Homo sapiens: one gene and its partners. The protein of the gene in region 1 purifies or fractionates together with the protein of each later gene. This does not show direct contact. Each region holds a gene or a part of one and is shown in the gene's direction. Other genes may lie near its edges.

Region 1 (3,500 bases):
CATTTAGTGCTATAAATTTCCCTCTACACACTGCTTTGAATGTGTCCCAGAGATTCTGGTATGTTGTGTCTTTGTTCTCGTTGGTTTCAAAGAACATCTTTATTTCTGCCTTCATTTCGTTATGTACCCAGTAGTCATTCAGGAGCAGGTTGTTCAGTTTCCATGTAGTTGAGCGGCTTTGAGATTCTTAATCCTGAGTTCTAGTTTGATTGCACTGTGGTCTGAGAGATAGTTTGTTATAATTTCTGTTCTTTTACATTTGCTGAGGAGAGCTTTACTTCCAGTATGTGGTCAATTTTGTAACAGGTGTGGTGTGGTGCTGAAAAAAATGTATATTCTGTTGATTTGCGGTGGAGAGTTCTGTAGATGTCTATTAGGTCCGCTTGGTGCAGAGCTGAGTTCAATTCCTGGGTATCCTTTTTGACTTTCTGTCTCGTTGATCTATCTAATGTTGACAGTGGGGTGTTAAAGTCTCCCATTATTAATGTGTGGGAGTCTAAGTCTCTTTGTAGGTCACTCAGGACTTGCTTTACGAATCTTGGTGCTCCTGTATTGGGTGCATATATATTTAGGAGAGTTAGCTCTTCTTGTTGAATTGATCCCTTTACCATTATGTAATGGCCTTCTTTGTCTCTTTTGATCTTTGTTGGTTTAAAGTCTGTTTTATCAGAGACTAGGATTGCAACCCCTGCCTTTTTTTGTTTTCCATTGGCTTGGTAGATCTTCCTCCATCCTTTTATTTTGAGCCTATGTGTGCCTCTGCACGTGAGATGGGTTTCCTGAATACAGCACACTGATGGGTCTTGACTCTTTATCCAATTTGCCAGTCTGTGTCTTTTAATTGGAGCATTTAGTCCATTTACATTTAACGTTAATATTGTTATGTGTGAATTTGATCCTGTCATTATGATGTTAGCTGGTTATTTTGCTCGTTAGTTGATGCAGTTTCTTCCTACTCTCGATGGTCTTTACATTTTGGCATGATTTTGCAGTGGCTGGTACCGGTTGTTCCTTTCCATGTTTAGTGCTTCCTTCAGGAGCTCTTGTAAGGCAGGCCTGGTGGTGACAAAATCTCTCAGCATTTGCTTGTCTGTAAAGTATTTTATTTCTCCTTCACTTATGAAGCTTAGTTTGGCTGGATATGAAGTTCTGGGTTGAAAATTCTTTTCTTTAAGAATGTTGAATATTGGCCCCCACTCTCTTCTGGCTTGTAGGGTTTCTGCCGAGAGATCCGCTGTTAGTCTGATGGGCTTCCCTTTGAGGGTAACCCGACCTTTCTCTCTGGCTGCCCTTAACATTTTTTCCTTCATTTCAACTTTGGTGAATCTGACAATTATGTGTCTTGGAGTTGCTCTTCTCGAGGAGTATCTTTGTGGCGTTCTCTGTATTTCCTGAATCTGAACGTTGTCCTGCCTTGCTAGATTGGGGAAGTTCTCCTGGATAATATACTGCAGAGTGTTTTCCAACTTGGTTCCATTCTCCCCATCACTTTCAGGTACACCAATCAGACGTAGATTTGGTCTTTTCACATAGTCCCATATTTCTTGGAGGCTTTGCTCATTTCTTTTTATTCTTTTTTTTCTAGACTTCCCTTCTTGCTTCATTTCATTCATTTCATCTTCCATCGCTGATACCCTTTCTTCCAGTTGATCGCATCGGCTCCTGAGGCTTCTGCATTCTTCACGTAGTTCTTGAGCCTTGGTTTTCAGCTCCATCAGCTCCTTTAAGCACTTCTCTGTATTGGTTATTCTAGTTATACATTCTTCTAATTTTTTTTCAAAGTTTTCAACTTCTTTGCCTTTGGTTTGAATGTCCTCCCGTAGCTCAGAGTAATTTGATCATCTGAAGCCTTCTTCTCTCAGCTCGTCAAAGTCATTCTCCATCCAGCTTTGTTCCGTTGCTGGTGAGGAACTGCGTTCCTTTGGAGGAGGAGAGGCGCTCTGCTTTTTAGAGTTTCCAGTTTTTCTGTTCTGTTTTTTCCCCATCTTTGTGGTTTTGTCTACTTTTGGTCTTTGATGATGGTGATGTACAGATGGGTTTTTGGTGTGGATGTCCTTTCTGTTTGTTTTCCTTCTAACAGAGAGGACCCTCAGCTGCAGGTCTGTTGGAGTACCCTGCCGTGTGAGGTGTCAGTGTGCCCCTGCTGGGGGGTGCCTCCCAGTTAGGCTGCTCGGGGGTCAGGGGTCAGGGACTCACTTGAGGAGGCAGTCTGCCAGTTCTCAGATCTCCAGCTGCGTGCTGGGAGAACCACTGCTCTCTTCAAAGCTGTCAGACAGGGACATTTAAGTCTGCAGAGGTTACTGCTGTCTTTTTGTGTGTCTGTGCCCTGCCCCCAGAGGTGGAGCCTACAGAGGCAGGCAGGCCTCCTTGAGCTGTGGTGGGCTCCACCCAGTTGGAGCTGCTTTGTTTACCTAATCAAGCCTGGGCAATGGCGGGCGCCCCTCCCCCAGCCTCGCTGCTGCCTTGCAGTTTGATCTCAGACTGCTGTGCTAGCAATCAGCGAGACTCTGTGGTCATAGGACCCTCTGAGCCAGGTGTGGGATATAATCTCGTGGTGCGCCGTTTCTTAAGCCCATCGGAAAAGCGCAATATTCGGGTGGGAGTGACCCGATTTTCCAGGTGCGTCCGTCACCCCTTTCTTTGACTCGGAAAGGGAACTCCCTGACCCCTTGCGCTTCCCGAGTGAGGCAATGCCTCGCCCTGCTTCGGCTCGTGCACGGTGCGCGCACCCACTGACCTGCGCCCACTGTCTGGCACTCCCTAGTGAGATGAACCCGGTACCTCAGATGGAAATGCAGAAATCACCCATGTTCTGCGTCGCTCACTCTGGGAGCTGTAGACCGGAGCTGTTCCTATTCGGCCATCTTGGCTCCTCCCCCTCACTACAAAGGGTTTTGATGATTTATCTTTTGTATGTCTTCCCACAGGGCAGTGGCAGGTGTTTGGGCCAGACAAGCCTGTCCAGGCCTTGGTGGGGGAGGACGCAGCATTCTCCTGTTTCCTGTCTCCTAAGACCAATGCAGAGGCCATGGAAGTGCGGTTCTTCAGGGGCCAGTTCTCTAGCGTGGTCCACCTCTACAGGGACGGGAAGGACCAGCCATTTATGCAGATGCCACAGTATCAAGGCAGGACAAAACTGGTGAAGGATTCTATTGCGGAGGGGCGCATCTCTCTGAGGCTGGAAAACATTACTGTGTTGGATGCTGGCCTCTATGGGTGCAGGATTAGTTCCCAGTCTTACTACCAGAAGGCCATCTGGGAGCTACAGGTGTCAGGTCAGTTTCATATTTCATAACTTAGTTGTCCCAAAGAACCATCCTGGACTTTATAAGTGTTTTTTTCAATAAGGAAATTTTAAAATTTTAGGTCATTTAGTTAGAAGGCAGCATTCTATACTCTACGTTCCTTCTGTCTTGTGTGTATAGTTCTATGTGTTTTGTCACATGTTTAAATTCAGGTAACCACCATCACATCAAGGTATAGAACTACCCCATCATCAC
Region 2 (3,500 bases), on another chromosome or scaffold:
TGGGTGGAATCAGCAGAGGCATCAGGGGAGGCAGAGGCCTGCGGGAGGTGGGATTGAGGGAGGCTGACAGCTGGTTCTCTAGGTGCTGGAGGGCGAGGCTGTGGGCATCAAGAGCTTCGGCTACTCCCTGTCAGGCAGCTTGGATATGGATGGGAACCAATACCCTGACCTGCTGGTGGGCTCCCTGGCTGACACCGCAGTGCTCTTCAGGTGAGCCCCTCTCAACCTTTTCCCTCCCTGAGGCCGTCAGCCCCTCCCTGTGACTCTGACCCCGACCTCAGTGCCAAATCTAATGCTGAAGAGTGTTTCCCAGCCTCATGTTCTCATGTTTCTTGTGCTCTTGACTCCCCAATCCCAGGGCCAGACCCATCCTCCATGTCTCCCATGAGGTCTCTATTGCTCCACGAAGCATCGACCTGGAGCAGCCCAACTGTGCTGGCGGCCACTCGGTCTGGTGAGGTGGGATCGGGTGGCACCTGGACCCTGGCAGCTTCCCCTGCCCTCCCTTTGATCCTTTATCTCCCCAGTTTGGGGCTGGGGCTGTGACAGGATGTGACAGATGGGGTGGGGGTAGGGGCCTTGGCCCATCAGCCTCGTTTGGCTCAGGAGCCACCTTTGCCCCCGCAGTGTGGACCTAAGGGTCTGTTTCAGCTACATTGCAGTCCCCAGCAGCTATAGCCCTACTGTGGGTGAGTGCGGTCCCCCCTCTGTGGCTCGCCCTTTTGGGTTTCCCAGGGAGGGGGGTCACTTCGAGGTGGTAGAAGAGCACCCTTGGAATGGGGTGAGCTGGAGCAGCTCTGCAGCTCAGCAGCTCCTCCTTTCCCAACATGCCACAGCCCTGGACTATGTGTTAGATGCGGACACAGACCGGAGGCTCCGGGGCCAGGTTCCCCGTGTGACGTTCCTGAGCCGTAACCTGGAAGAACCCAAGCACCAGGCCTCGGGCACCGTGTGGCTGAAGCACCAGCATGACCGAGTCTGTGGAGACGCCATGTTCCAGCTCCAGGTGGACACTGACCCCTTGGCTTCTGAGGGTCATTTTCATGGCTCCATCTCTTTTCCCTGATTCCTCTTAGCTGCTTTTTCCCGAGCACACTCGTGCCTCCTTCTAAGACCTAGACACGTGGGAAACCTGTCTTCTGAGCTCACTTCCTCCTCATCTGCTGCCCTCTCCTGTCATTTCTGCACTCCCTGGAGGAGGAGGAGGTGCAAGGGGCTTCATGTCCCCTCTTCCAGCTGAATGGAGGAGGTGGCAGCTTTTATCATCACATCTGGTCCTCAAAGCCCTAAAGGTTTCCCCTGTCCCCTACCCCAGTCTTTCTCCCTCCTCCTTGCTCAGTTCTCCACCTCTCTCATTCATCTCCCTAATATTCTTTCCAAGTTTTAGAATTGGTCCTAGGTCTGGCTGGGGCACTGAGCAGGGCTGAGGCCTGGGGATTGTTCCAGTGAGGAATAGACCTTCCTCTTCCTAGGAAAATGTCAAAGACAAGCTTCGGGCCATTGTAGTGACCTTGTCCTACAGTCTCCAGACCCCTCGGCTCCGGCGACAGGCTCCTGGCCAGGGGCTGCCTCCAGTGGCCCCCATCCTCAATGCCCACCAGCCCAGCACCCAGCGGGCAGAGGTGAGCATGGGTTCTGGTTTAGCCCAGGGGGAGGAGCTGGGAGGGCAAAGATCATGGTCCCTCCCCAGTGACACCAATTCACAGCTCACAGAGCCCTTTCACGTATGCTACTCCAGTAATTCCTCATATCTCTAGGTGCCTAAATGACCATGTTCCTAGTCAAGGGGACAGAGCTCCTCTACTCCATGTAGTCATTCAGGGGGCTCAGGTTGATGGGATTCTGTAATCTTCAAATGCGGCCTTCAAGCTCTTGAAGTCACATTCATCCCATTCAGCTGGAAGGGAGAACATGAGGCCCCTTGCTTGCATGGTTTTTATGGCTGGCCCAGAAGTGGTGCCCTTGACATCTTTTCCCGTTCTAAATCCGGAACTCAGTTACATGCATGTGAGCTGGGGCAGTGTGGCCCAGCTCTTGACTTGCTGCTAGTCTCTACCATGGCATGGTAGTGCTCCCATCACTACCATGATGAGAGGACCCAGAGGAGAGGACCCAGTTCAGGATCACATGGCTAATAAGCAGCAGATCTGAGAGTTGAGGACAGGTTGTTTAATCCTGTGATACTCTAACCCACCATATGCCATGGTGACAGGTTTGCCCCCTGCCTTGCCCCCTAGGAATGCCCCTTATCTCATGTCTCTCCCCAGATCCACTTCCTGAAGCAAGGCTGTGGTGAAGACAAGATCTGCCAGAGCAATCTGCAGCTGGTCCGCGCCCGCTTCTGTACCCGGGTCAGCGACACGGAATTCCAACCTCTGCCCATGTGAGGGGGGCAGAGAGCAGGGTGGGGGTGGGAGGGCAAGAGTTCAAGGATTGAGAGAAAGCCCTCTCAGGAGGACCAGTCAGAGGGAAGGGCTGAGCCTGCAGAAAAGGCAGAAGGTGGAAGAGGACCTGCCGATGGACTTGGAGACTGAGATGAGGGTCAGTGATGGGGCCACGGGGGCTCCCATGGCAAGGAATAGCAATCCTTCACAGTACACTAATAATATGCAGTCTACATACATCTCATTGGTTAGTCTTCAAACCTCTGTGAGGTAGGAATTATATTAGTCTCATTTTATAGATGGAGAACTGAAGCCTAGAGAGGTTAAGTTACTTGGCCAAGGTAAGTAATGGTGGAGCTGAGATGAGAACGGAGGTCCCCTGACTCCCAGTCGTGTGTACAGAGGCCTGAGGCTTGGACGGGTGTGATGGGGACCTGGGGTGGGAAGAGAGGCTCAGGGAGTGAAGGCAGGTACTGGGGGAGCAGACTGGGCGGGGGAATGGTAGGGGGAGGTGTTCAGAACTTAGCAGGAGTGGGGTCTGACTCTCCAGGGATGTGGATGGAACAACAGCCCTGTTTGCACTGAGTGGGCAGCCAGTCATTGGCCTGGAGCTGATGGTCACCAACCTGCCATCGGACCCAGCCCAGCCCCAGGCTGATGGGGATGATGCCCATGAAGCCCAGCTCCTGGTCATGCTTCCTGACTCACTGCACTACTCAGGGGTCCGGGCCCTGGACCCTGCGGTGAGGACCTGGGGGCAGGATGGGGTGGGGTCTTGAGGGGCTCCAGTAACCCAGACTGACCTTGCCTTCTCTCCCATTCCAGGAGAAGCCACTCTGCCTGTCCAATGAGAATGCCTCCCATGTTGAGTGTGAGCTGGGGAACCCCATGAAGAGAGGTGCCCAGGTTGGCACATCTGCCCTTATCCCTACGTGAGTAGCCTCTCCATAAGCCCGTAGACCACCCCTGACTCTAATCTCTTTCCACCCTTGGCCTAGGTCACCTTCTACCTCATCCTTAGCACCTCCGGGATCAGCATTGAGACCACGGAACTGGAGGTAGAGCTGCTGTTGGCCACGTAAGCCAGGCGGGGCCGGAAGGGTGAGGTGGGGGTAG
Region 3 (3,500 bases), on another chromosome or scaffold:
CCAGCCCTCCCTATACTGGAAGAACTAGGACAAATAGTTTCTAAAAGGCCCTGCCGGCCAGGAACAGTGGCTCACGCCTATAATCCCAGCACTTTGGGGGGCTGAGGCAGGCGGATCACTTGAGGTCAGGAGTTTGAGACCAGCCTGGCCAACATAGTGAAAACCCGTCTCTACTAAAAATACAAAAACTAGTTGGGTGAGGTGGTGCACGCCTATAATCCCAGCTACTTGGGAGGCTGAGGCAGGAGAATGGTTTGAACTCAGGAGGCGGAGTTACAGTGAGCCGAGATCACACCACTACACTCTCCAGCCTGGGCGACAGAGCAAGACTCCATCTCAAAAAATAAAATGAAAGGCCCTGCTGCATCAGAGATTCAGTGACCAACCCCTTAAATTCCTGGCAGGCACGATGGCTCATGCCAGTAATCCCAACACTTTGGGAGCCTGAGGTAGGAGGATTGTCTGAGGCCAGGAGTTCAAGACCAGCCTGGGCAATATAAACAAAACTATATATATATAGTTTTCATATATATAAAATTTCATATATATAAAATTTTAAAATTCGTAAATGTGGTAAAGAAGTTTGGTTTGGGAAAAACATCACAGATTGGGAAGAGAAACAGTTTGTTAATGACTTGGAAATCCTCCCTTAGTTGAAATGTCAGCTTTCACTGGGCACAGTGTATTCACTTCCATAAGATGAGCTCCTCGTCTTCTTCACCTTCACTTGCCATTATAGGTGCTGGCCCTGCCATCAGGGATTGGTTATAAAGTTTTGTCTTTTTGTTGTGCAGGTACTGTGTGGTTTTATTGACTGCTGAGACTACCAAGTTGAGCAAACCCTTTGAGGCTTTCCTGTCCTTTGCCCTGGCAAACACTCAAGACACAGTGAGATTTGTGCATGTCTACAGCAATCGGCAGCAGGAGTTTGCCGACACCTTACTACCAGACAGTGAGGCGTTTCAAGGGAAATCAGCGGTAAGCCACAGAGTCTCTCCTCATCCCAGGCTCTTCATAACCATGTGGCACTTGATTCTGTTTCCTTCTTCCTTGAGAGTGTTGAATACAGATTCTAGGAAATCTGAAACTCTGAAGCCTATTTTCAAAGTCTACTCTTTTGTTTTTCCTTTTTCTTGATTTTTTTTTTTTTCTTTTGAGACAGGGTCTCACTCTGTCTCCCAGGCTGGGAGTGCAGTGACATGATCTCAGCTCATTACAGCCTCGACCTCCCAGGCTCAAGTGATCCTCCCACCTCAGCCTCCCACATAGCTGGGACCACAGGCACACACAACCACGCCTGGCTAATTTTTTGTATTTTTTTGTAGAGATAGGGTTTCGACATGTTGCCCAGGTTGGTCTCAAACTCCCGAGCTCAGGCAATCCTCCCGCCTCCCAAAGTGCTGGGATTACAGGCATGAGCCACTGCTCCTGGCCTAAAGCCTACTCTTAAAACAGTTTTTGACCTGGTCTTTTTACATTCTGGATGTCAGCCTCAGGCCCCCACAGAAACCATGTTTTCTATCAGTGAACGGTAAAGGTCATCAGTGCTTTTCACCAGTTTTTTACTAAGGCAAGTCTGGTCTTGCAGCATCCTAGATCCTAGATTTTACAAATCCTTAGGCCACTGGTAATGTGCTCTGGAAATTTCTGCCCCCCTCTGCCTCTTTAACTTCATCCTGGTTGATCTCTCCTGCCTTTCTCCTGCATTGTCATCACTTCCTACAGAAACAAGAAATTCTCCTCTGACTTTTCATCATTTTCGCAATCATGGAAAATCTCTCTAAAAAACAAAGGTTTCCATTAATATTAAGTCAAGGTTATAGAGCAAAGTCTATTGAGAAAAAAGAGCTTTAACTTTTAACAAAAGCTTAGGAAAGTCACCATAAAAGTTATTTCTTAGGCCGAACGCGGTGGCTCACACCTATAATCCCAGCACTTTGGGAGGCCGAGGCGGGTGGATCACTTGAGGCTAGGAGTTTGAGACCAGCCTAATCAACATGGTGAAACCTCATCTCTACTAAAAATACAAAAATTAGCTGGTGTGGTGCACACCTGTCTGTAGTCCCAACTACTCAGCAGGCTGAGGCACGAGAATTGCTTGAACCTGGGAGGCAGAGGTTGCAGTGAGCCAAGATCGCACCATTGCACTCCAGCCTGGGAGACAAGGGCGAAACTCTGTCTCAAAAAACAAACAACTGGGCCAAGTGTGGTGGCTCACAGCTGTAATCCCAGCACTTTGGGAGGCCAAGGCAGGCAGATCACGAGGTCAGGAGATCGAGACCATCCTGGCTAGCATGGTGAAACCCCATCTCTACTAAAAAAAAAAAAAAAAAAAAAAAAAAATACCAAAAATTAGCCAGGCATGGTGGCAGGTGCCTCTAGTCCCAGCCACTTGGGAAGGCTGAGCCAGGAGAATGGCGTGAACCCGGGAGGCGGAGCTTGCAGTGAGCCAAGATCACGCCACTGCACTCCAGCCTGGGCGACAAAGCAAGACTCCGTCAAAAAAAAAAAAAAAAGCAAACAACTGTAACTTAACCATGCTTTTGAAACTTCTGATGTTTTTTCTCTACTTTTCTTCCAGGTGTCTATTTTAGAAAGGCGCAACACAGCAGGAAGGGTGGTGTATAAAACCCTGGAAGACCCTTGGATTGGGAGTGAGAGTGACAAATTTATCCTCTTGGGCTATCTCGACCAGCTGCGTAAAGATCCAGCTCTTCTGTCCTCTGAAGCAGTGCTTCCTGACCTGACCGATGAACTTGCCCCTGTGAGCATCGGGGCTGGGAAGGGTGGGACACCAGGAGGGCTTGTGAGTACACAGTGCTGGTGGCGGATTTCTGCTCAGAGCAGAGGTCCAGCAGCAGCACTGTGTTGCAGGGTAGAGGGACTCTCCCTTCCGGCTTTAGTCCTGACCATCATCCATTTTCTCTCTACATAGGTTTTTCTCCTTCGATGGTTCTACTCTGCTTCTGACTACATCTCAGACTGCTGGGATAGCATTTTTCACAACAACTGGTAGGGATATTGCCAGGCTGAATTTCTTTTTCTCTGTTAATACTGATATCACTGTTTTTCTTTTGAAAAGAGTTCATCATTATTAAATTTCAAGGTACACTTGATGGGGCAAGTGGAAGAACGTTTACACATTTTCTATTCCCCTTTTTCTTTCTTTCAGTAACTTCCCTTTTTTTTATTTTTTACTTTTTTTTTTTTTGAGACAAAGTCTTGCTCTTGTCCCCCAGGCTCAATCTGGGGATCACTGCAACCTCCGCCTCCCAGGTTCAAGCAATTCTCCTGCCTCAGCCTCCTGAGTAGCTGGGATTACAGGCACCTGTCACCATGCCTGGCTAATTTTTGTATTTTTAGTAGAGATAGGGTTTCACCATGTTGGTCAGGCTGGTCTCAAACTCCTGACCTCAGGTGATCCACCCGCCTCGGCCTCCCAAAGTGCTGGGCTTACAGGTGTGAACCACTGCTCCCGGACATTTTTTATTTTTTATTTT
Region 4 (3,500 bases), on another chromosome or scaffold:
TTATAAACAACGGGCCCTGCCAATGTTTACCTTTTTAGCATTTCTCCTGAGCTGCTTTCTCTGGCCTTGTCCCATTCACGCCCGCCACCTTCTCCCCTGCACCACAGTGTTCCCCCTATTCATCCACCCCCTCTGTCTTCCACCTACAGCTCTCCAGTAGCCCCTCTTACCTGTACAAACTCTTTCTTTTTTTTTAAAGTATAGATGGGGTTTCTCCATGTTGGTCAGGCTGGTCTCGAACTCCTGACCTCAGGTGATTCCCCCGCCTTGGCCTCCCAAAGTGCTGGGATTACGGGCCTGAGCCACTGTGCCTGGCTACCTGTACAAACTCTTACGTGTGTTTCAGGCTCAGCGCATTCTCTCTCTCTGCAAGTCTTCCTGACGCCCAGCCTAAGCCACGTGCCCTCCCTGGGTTCCCATGGCAGATCCATTTCAGTGTTTACCCTTTATGGTCACATGATCTCTTTACCTGTCTCCTCCCTCTGAGAGTGCGAGCCCCTCAGGGAAGCTGTTGTGTCTCACTGTATCATCCCTGCATAACCCAGCCCCCCATACTCTCGTGGTCAGACCACATTTGTCCCACCTGCACTGTTGGGTACCACAGCCACGAACCATGTCTGGACACTGGACAGTTGAAAGGGGATGGGTCTTAATTGAGATGTGCTGTAACTGTTAAACAGCCACCAGTTTTTGAGGACTTAATGTGAAACAAAGAATGTGGAATAGCTCATTCATAATTTTTACATTGATTGCCTGTTGCAATGATATTATTTTGGATACGTTGGGTTCAGTAAAATATATTAAGTTAATTTTATCTGTTTCTTTTTTGTAGCCTGGGCTACTTTTTGTATTTTTATTAGAGACAGGGTTTCACTATGTTGGCCAGGCTGGTCTTGAACTCCTGACCTCAGGTGATCCACCCACCCTGGCCTCCCAAAGTGCTGGGTTTACAGGTGTGAGCCACCCCGCCCAGCCTAAAATCAGTACATTATGTATATACTAACTTGTGACTCTTAGTCAATTGATTATCTTCTAGATCAACTATGACTTCTTTGGTTCATTGTAACTGGCGTGTTTTCTTATGTTTGGGTTTTTGTTGGAGTGGTAGATGCAGGCCTCATATACTTCGTGGATTCCTTAATGTCAAATATTTGGTAATAATGATTTACAAAACAAGATAATTCAGCTTGCTTTTTTTTTTTTGACACGGAGTCTCACTGTGTCGCCCAGGTTGGAGTATAGTGGCACGATCTCGGCTCACTGCAAGCTCCGCCTCCCGGGTTCACACCATTCTCCTGTCTCAGCCTTCCAAGTAGCTGGGACTACAGGCGCCTGCCACCACGCCCAGCTAACTTTTTGTATTTTTAATAGAGACCGGGTTTCACCGTGTTAGCCAGAATGGTCTCGATCTCCTGACCTCATGATCCACCTGCCTTGGCCTCCCAAAATGCTGGGATTACAGGCGTGAGCCACCGCGCCTGGCCGATAATTCAGCTTTCTTTTGAATGTCAAAAATGTGACTGTGCTTTGTCGGAATGTTTCTTAGCTGAATTTTTCTGTTGTGTGTACTTTTCAGAGAACGTGACTGTCATTCCTAACCAGGTGTATCAGCCCCTTGGCCCTTGTCCTTGTAATTTAACAGCTGGAGCCTGTGATGTTCGCTGCTGCTGTGACCAGGTATGTTCTTTGGTTATTGGGCACAAAAGTTATGCTACCTGTGAGAACACCAGCAGTTCCACCAACAGCTTTTTTCATTTTTTATTTCTTGAGATAGGGTCTTGCTCTGTCACCCAGGCTGGAGTATGGTGATGCAATGATGGCTCACTGCAGCCTCGACCTCCCGGGCTCAAGTGATTCTCTTACCTCAGCCTCCTGAGTAGCTGGGACCACAGGCATGAACCATCACACCCAGCTAATTGTTTTGTATCTTTTGTAGAGATGGGATTTTGCCATGTTGCTCAGGCTGGTCTCAAATTCCTGGGATCAAACAGTCCTCCTACCTTGGCCTCCCAAAATGTTGGGATTACAGGTGTGAGCCACCATGCCTTGCCCCAACAGCTTTTTAAGGGATGGTCTTCCAAAACTGAGATTATGTTTTCTATTGCAAATTGTTTTCAAATTGAGTTTTTTTTTTTTTTTTTTTTTGAGATGGAGTCTCGCTCTGTCGCCCAGCCTGGAGTGCAGTGGCGTGATCTTGGCTCACTGCAAGCTCCGCCTCCCGGGTTCATGCCATTCTCCTGCCTCAGCCTCCTGAGTAGCTGGGACTACAGGCGCCCACCACCACGCCCAGCTAATTTTTTGTATTTTTAGTAGAGACGGGGTTTCACCGTGTTAGCCAGGATGGTCTTGATCTCCTGACCTCGTGATCCGCCCGCCTCGGCCTCCCAAAGTGCGGGGATTACAGGCGTGAGCCACCGCGCCCAGCCCAAATTGAGTATTTTTTTAAATTTAAAAATTTTGGTGGGCGCAGTGGCGCATACCTGTAATCCCAGCACTTTGGGTGGCCAAGGTGGGCGGATCACCTGAGGTCCGGAGTTTGAGACCAGCCTGACCAACATGGAGAAACCCCATCTCTACTAAAAATACAAAATTAGCCAGGCGTGTTGGTGGGCGCCTGTAATCCCAGCTACTCTGGAGGCTGAGGCAGGAGAATCGCTTGAACTAGGGAGGCAGAGGTTGCAGTGAGCCAGAATTGTGCCACTGCACTCCAGCCTGGGCAACAAGAGCGAAACTCCGTTTCAAAAAAAAAAAAAAAATCACACAACTTTTGAGTAAATTTTTTTTTTTTGAGACGGCCTCCTAAAGTGCTGGAATTACAGGTGTAAGCCACCATGCCCGGCCTGACTTTTTTTCTTTTAGGCTTAGAGCAATACAACATATAAACTCTATTTTCTTTCTTTTTTCTTTCTTTTTTTTTTTTTTGAGACAGAGTCTCGCTTTGTTGCCCAGGCTGGAGTGCAGTGACACGATCTCGGGTCACTGCAACCTCCACCTCCTGGATTCAAGTGATTCTTGTGCCTCAGCCTCCCGAGTAACTGGAACTACAGGTGTGCGCCACCACACCTGGCTAATTTTTGTATTTTTAGTAGAGGCGGGGTTTCACCATGTTGGCCAGGCTGGTCTTAAACTCCTGACCTCAGGTGATCTGCCTACCTCGGCCTCCCAAAGTGCTGGGATTACAGGAGTGAGCCACTGCACTGGGCCTAAATTCAGTATTTTCTTATCTGGCATAGTCAGTCTAGTTTTTGGAAGAAGGAAAGAATATCTCTTTGGATAAAATCATGATTGTGAAGATCATACTGGGGGGATGGTTTTAATAATATTTATTCAGAAACCTTTAAGAAATATAAAAAAAGAAAGAATAAGAAAGAACAGGCCTGGCGAAGCAGCTCACGCCTGTAATCCCAGCACTTTGGGAGGCCGATGTGGGTGGATCACTTGAGTTCAGGAGTTGGATACCAGCCTGGGCAACATGGCAAAACCCCATCTCTACAAAAATT

The links. Proteins that work in one complex are often made in the same cells at the same time.
Region 2: the proteins of BTNL8 (region 1) and ITGA7 purify together in Homo sapiens (affinity purification with mass spectrometry; 3 studies listed by BioGRID and IntAct, with this or other methods). This does not show direct contact.
Region 3: the proteins of BTNL8 (region 1) and DNAJC16 purify together in Homo sapiens (affinity purification with mass spectrometry; 3 studies listed by BioGRID and IntAct, with this or other methods). This does not show direct contact.
Region 4: the proteins of BTNL8 (region 1) and TCTN2 purify together in Homo sapiens (affinity purification with mass spectrometry; 3 studies listed by BioGRID and IntAct, with this or other methods). This does not show direct contact.

The regions. Positions count from the first base shown.
Region 1 is NC_000005.10:180,905,659-180,909,158, forward strand, and holds part of BTNL8 (butyrophilin-like protein 8 isoform 2 precursor), read left to right. Parts: intron 1-2,927; coding exon 2,928-3,275; intron 3,276-3,500.
Region 2 is NC_000012.12:55,694,405-55,697,904, reverse strand, and holds part of ITGA7 (integrin alpha-7 isoform 2 precursor), read left to right. Parts: intron 1-82; coding exon 83-210; intron 211-358; coding exon 359-454; intron 455-627; coding exon 628-689; intron 690-836; coding exon 837-1,006; intron 1,007-1,472; coding exon 1,473-1,622; intron 1,623-2,267; coding exon 2,268-2,383; intron 2,384-2,934; coding exon 2,935-3,127; intron 3,128-3,209; coding exon 3,210-3,290; intron 3,291-3,382; coding exon 3,383-3,462; intron 3,463-3,500. UniProt on the Homo sapiens protein: Integrin alpha-7/beta-1 is the primary laminin receptor on skeletal myoblasts and adult myofibers.
Region 3 is NC_000001.11:15,561,348-15,564,847, forward strand, and holds part of DNAJC16 (dnaJ homolog subfamily C member 16 isoform 1 precursor), read left to right. Parts: intron 1-794; coding exon 795-978; intron 979-2,581; coding exon 2,582-2,764; intron 2,765-2,935; coding exon 2,936-3,012; intron 3,013-3,500. UniProt on the Homo sapiens protein: Plays an important role in regulating the size of autophagosomes during the formation process.
Region 4 is NC_000012.12:123,677,613-123,681,112, forward strand, and holds part of TCTN2 (tectonic-2 isoform 1 precursor), read left to right. Parts: intron 1-1,576; coding exon 1,577-1,677; intron 1,678-3,500.